2 separate regions of the Homo sapiens genome follow, and region 1 is linked to region 2. Evidence: fine-mapped expression QTL. A gene starts in region 2. The other region holds a variant in brackets. All regions are shown on one strand. Distances are from middle to middle. Region 1 overlaps SYBU (syntabulin). Region 2 holds the start of EBAG9 (estrogen receptor binding site associated antigen 9).

Region 1 (2,500 bases), 33 kb before region 2:
CCACACACTTCAGCATGATGAAAATAAAGATTAGTGTTTCCATTTAAATAAATGTTTTATCCTCCCATAAAATAATAATTATTTCTGTGATTTTACTTCTATGTATAAGAAAGACAATGAATAGCAGATCTTACATCTTTATCAATAGGGGGTCTGTAAAAATTGAATTAAATTAGGAAGAGGGAAAAAGAGTTAGTTATTAAAGAAAATGAAGATTTCCTACCCTTACTTAAAAAGCATCATTTCTGAATAAAAGTAGATTTGTTTACTTTTAAATTGCCCATACACTATTTTGTCCATATGTTTATGCAGTAAGTACATCTTGAGTGTTTTCAGGAACATTGGGTTGATCTAAGCATGCTAGGTGTTCAGGAGAGGGAGAATATGGTAGTGCCATATAGCTTCCTTCCCCAGAATGATAGGATGAGGGTGGGTGGCTGGGAAGGGATGAGAAGGTATTTGATCTATGTTCATCTAGTGCTTACACCAAAATTTTGAGATTAGTATTTTACACATATCTTTGAGGGAACTAAGCCTCAAAGAGGAAAAATGTTCAGGATCTCAGAGCTCATCTCCAGAAGCCACGATTTCAAGTGTTTGCAAAAGCAAATGCCTTTTCTACTTTGCCACACAAAGGGAGGATAAAGAGGCTGGATAATACCCCAAGTTCTCATCCAGAAACTCTTCTTCCATAGCACTTAACACCTTTAAATATACCACCCTTTTACTTACAATGCCTTGGTTATTACCCATCTTTCCCACTGAGATATTAGCTCCATGAGGGCAGGGATCTTTGTTCTGTTTTGTTCACAGCTGTATGTCAAGAACCTAGAACAAATGAAAGAATAAGACTTAGAATTTGATAGCACAACAGGGAACCTATAATCAATAATAATTTAATTGCATATATTAAAATAATTAAAATAATATAATTGGATCGTTTCAACACAAAGGATGCTTGAGGGGATGGATACCCCATCTTCCATGATGTGACTATTGCATACACATTGCATGCCTGTACCAAAATAGCTCATGAGCCCTATATAGACACCTACTGGGTACCCACAAAATATTTTTAAAATATTTTAATTTTCTACAAATAAATTAAAATTTAACAATAACTTAGTACAGCACCTGGCACATAGTGGGAAGTCTAAAAATTGCTGTTGAATGAATTAATTAATCCAGCAAATA[T/C]TTACCAGGTACTCCGATGCTAACTGGGCACTTTCCAGGATGGGTCTTAAAAAGTGAAGGAGACAGAAAAGGTTTCTGTCCTCAGGAAGCTTATGTTCTGTGTCTGTGAGGGACACAACATGCCATCAAATAAACAAAAGATGGTTTCAGATAGTGGTAAATGCCTCAAAGGAAATAAGGTATTTTGACCAAGTGTGGCAGAGGTGAAAGTAAGGAACACATCTCTGAAGAAATAACATTGGTGGGAATGGATGAAAAAGAGTCAATCATGCAAAAATATGGGACAAAATCTTGTTGCAAGAGGAACAAATGCAAAGGCCGTCAGACAGAAAGGACTCAGAGTGTGACAGGAGCATCCTGGAGGTCAGTGTGGCTGGAGCAGAGTGAGAAGGAAGGAGAAAGTTGGAGTAGACAAGAAGCTGCTTCATATGGGGCCACACAAACCATGGTAGAGGTTTCAGTTTATTCAAGAACGCCATTTAGGGGTCTATTGTAATGTCCAGATGAGAGATGATGCCAATTTGGAGGTGGAAGTAGATACAGAGTTTAAGTTGAAAAATTACAGATATAGCTTGAAGATAGAACTAATGTGATTTGCTGATGGATTAAATGTGGAGTAAGGAAAAGAAAAAAAATAAGGGTGACTCAGGTTTTTGGCTTGAGCAATTGGATCAATGGCGGCCATATTTGCTCAGAATGGGAAGAGTTCAAGAGAAACAAGTTTGGGAAAAATAAAACTGAGATGTCTATTAAAACATCTATGTGAAGATATCAAGAGTAACTGCATATATAAATGTGAAAATCAAGGGAGCTGTCAGGACTAGACTTATAACATTGAACCTTTCTGGCATTTGTGTGGTAATTAAAACCATGGGAACAAGTGAGGTCATCCAGGAAGAGTGTAGAGAAGGAAAAAAGGTCAAAAATGGATTTCTGAGGTACTTCTATATTTAGATAGAGGTGGAGGATGAAGAACCAACAAAACAGCCAGAGAAATGACAGCCCAAAATGTAGGAGCAAAACTAGGTGATTAGTAGTATAAAAACCAAGAGAAGAGAGTAATTCAAGAAGAATGGAGCAGTCAATTGTGTTGAAGTCCCACCAAGAGATTAATATGAGAATAGTTACATATTCACCGGCTTTGACAGCAAGGTCTTAATGACTGTGTCAACATCATTCCTTGGAGAAATGGGGATGGGAGGCCAATTGGAGCAGGTTGAAGAGTGAATGGAAGCGAGAAAGTGAAATATGTGCTGCTGAATTTTTTTGTTTTATTAAGTTTTACAATTAAGGAGAATAGGAAATT
Region 2 (3,030 bases):
ACCTACTATGTTTCAGTCGCTACTTTGGATTTGGAAGCTGGGAAATACTACCAACTCCGCATGGGGAAACTCTGCGTTCACTCCCAGTTGTCATGAGCTTGCCCATAAACTTATCCCTGAGGAATGCAAGAAACTAAGGAGGCAGGACGTCCATCAGTCTTGCTCATTCTGGTATTTATAGGTCTCAGTCAAAGCCGGGCACATAGTAGGTACTCAAATATTTGTTGAATGGAAGGAAACTAACATTCCTTGAGCACTTGAACGCTCAAGACAATGTTCGATCACCTCACTGGAATCCTAAGGACAACCAAAAGAGGTAGGTTTTTCACTACTCCCGTTTAATAGATGAGGTTGACAGACTTAGATTCACTTACCCAGGATTTAAAGGGACTGACCCGAAAGCCCAAGGCTCTCCCTACATCATATCCTACTTAAGAAACCTTTTAATTGTGTGCACATTGCCTCAGTGCGATTTTTGAAATGCCCTCTAGATCACCAATTTGATAAGTATCTTACGCTACTTTACACTTTAGTTGCTTTAAAACACTTTCTAGAACGGAACAATGTTAATATAATCTAATCTTAACATTAAATTTCCTTAAAAATTACAAAGACAAAAATTTGAGGTATATCAGAATGAGATTCAAAACTATGAGGCAATGTATCCTCATTAAGGCTTTTTGAAGAAATGACAACTCTAGGAAATCAAGAATGAGAGCTCTGCCATGTTAACGGAAAAAAAATACAATTAAAAAAAGAATGCTACATTAGAAACTGATAGATCAAATGTATTATATCTTTTCTTGTTGAAATTCTCGGTAAACTGCTAGAGGTCCTTTCAAGTAGCCTCAATACATCACAATTCACAAAACAAGCAAAGCCAAAATCTATGTTCGGTACATACTAAACAGGTGCTGTATTTCTAAAACTCTATTTACGAATCTTTTCATACCAAAATTTGAAAACCATATGATCTAGTACAGTCCAGAATATCCTCAAACTATAACTCTCTGAAGTGGGTTAGAAAATATTACAAAGCTCCCAAAATAAAATTTACCTGAACTCACTTAAATTTGATAAATAAAGGTTTGAGCAGCGGCCCGTAAGAGAAGGGGAAACAGAAGCGGAGTGTGAGAGCTGGTAGTAAAATCGAACATTCTGTGCCATGTCTGGCAACCGAGAGTCAGGCCCTCAAGTATGTGACACCACTGGGGCGGTTCCGAAGGCGGAGTAAGGTCTCCAGAATAACTCAAAAGGAAAGAGTTTCATAACTTAAGTGGTTTCATTTCAGATTACCCACGTGAAATTTGTTGATGAAAAAAAAATCATACCCACTGCACAGATGAGAAAAACAGGAGCGTTTTCAGGTTATACAAGCCGACGCCTGGCGCCCGGCGTGACGTGAAACGCTCTAAGTTGCTGGAGCTGGATACCAGGTGAACTGAGATTTAAATTGTGGAAAAATCGGCCTGGAGAGGTACAAGGCCTGTAGACGGAGGGCAGTAAGGTCACGCAAATTTCCCTGAGGAAGGCGGCTTTGGAGGCTGCGTGCTTTCCGGGCCGGTACCCCACAGCCCAGTCTCCCACGCGTGAGCGGAGCATGGCGAATGCTGCACGCCTGGGTCCCGCTCCCAGTCGCAGTTTCCTCACCCCAGAGGTCACCCTGACCCGGAAACAGTACCCAGAGCAGCTGTCGGGCGTCGAGGGAGGTCTGGTGGAAGGGCGAAAGGAAGGTGGGAGGGCGGGAAGTGCGCGGCTAGGCGGAGGGCCGACGGCGAAGGGCAGACAATGCCCCAGAGGCTAGGGCTGGGGTCGGGATGGGGGTAGGGAGAGGAAAGCCCCTCCCAGGCACGCGCGAACCGCACACACTCACCTGCCCCTCCCCCTCCCCGCCCGCCCGGCGGAGGCTCCGAGCTGCCGCGGGCCGCGCGCGCACACAAGGCGCGCTCACGCGCGCTGCCTGTCTCTTCCTCGAGCTCGCGCTCCGCCCGCTCACTCCCAGCCCCGCTCATTCAAAGCCGGGCGCGCGCTCCGTAGCAGCCTGCGTTGCCTCTGCGCAGCTGCCATGGCCGCCCCTTCATCGGGAAACCCGCCCCCAGCCCCTCCTCTAGCCCCGCCCCCAGCCCTCCTTGAAGGCGGCTCTCGGCTGTCTCCAGGCCCTCGCTTCTGCACTCCGCCTCAGGTCCTGGCTGGCCCAATAGGTGAGAGGCTACGGGTCTGACGTCGAGACTGGGAGCCAATGAGCCCTGGGAGCGGGGCAAGCGGCGACAGGCACGCCAGGTTCGGTGAGGGGTAGCTTTTTGGGACTATTGCGAGCTGCTTTGACTGTTTATTCTCGGAGCGCCTGCTTCTGCCAGATGTCCCTACTTTCCTTCTATGCAGAGTGCCTCCCCTCCAGCAAAGTCCCTTTCTGTTCAACCCACAGAACCCCTGTGTCAGATGCGACCAAGGAAAATACACTGCAACAAATGAGGGATCTCCCTCTGTCTCAGGAAGATTTGGATGTGGCTAGACAGACCCCCTCCCCTCAGTCATTCCGCCACCTCAAAGATGTGGAATGCTGAGTTTAATTCAAGACGTAGCCTCCTCCCAGTAATTTTTAATTGAATTGTGTTGAACTAGAAATGAAGAAGTGGCACTTCACCGTGTCCATGCATTTGTTCCTCACATGCACCCTGGACTTGCCCTTCTTTCAACCTGAGATGTTCTTTCCTTCAGTGCTTCTCTCTTTGCAGCCTGATTCTTCTTTTTATCTTGTATGCTATGAAAGGGGTTGTTATGTGCAGGGGACCCTCAGAATACTATGCTCCACAGTTGCAAAGTGACTGGTGAGGGAGAAGTGAATAGGGTCTAAGGCCAAAATCAGTTTATGCAAATTGTTCTCAACAAGCCTTTTTCTTTATATGCCTTTAATTTTTTTTTTTATTACAGCTGCCTTTGTTCTCCCACCCTGACCCAGCAACCACCTACCCACTTAACTTTGTGATAATCTACCACAACCGTCCTCTTTCCAATTTGCACCACGTTTTT

Evidence for each region. PIP is the estimated chance that this variant, and not a neighbour inherited with it, causes the effect.
Region 1: its variant is fine-mapped to the expression of EBAG9 in whole blood (TOPMed, PIP 0.98).

The regions. Positions count from the first base shown.
Region 1 is chr8:109,571,754-109,574,253 of GRCh38, reverse strand. SYBU (syntabulin) reads left to right here. Exons shown (of 7, transcript NM_001099754.2): 7 at 1-276. Among named protein-coding and RNA genes, the nearest start is that of EBAG9, 33 kb to the right of the region's middle. The variant T/C (reference allele first, on the strand shown) is at 1,195.
Region 2 is chr8:109,538,763-109,541,792 of GRCh38, reverse strand. It overlaps EBAG9 (estrogen receptor binding site associated antigen 9), which reads right to left and starts at 1,620. Exons shown (of 7, transcript NM_004215.5): 1 at 1,332-1,620. EBAG9UORF reads right to left here and starts at 2,067. Exons shown (of 1, transcript NM_001436381.1): 1 at 1,993-2,067. The coding sequence starts at 2,067. The coding sequence ends at 1,993. RefSeq lists an enhancer at 1,252-1,611 and a silencer at 1,672-2,221.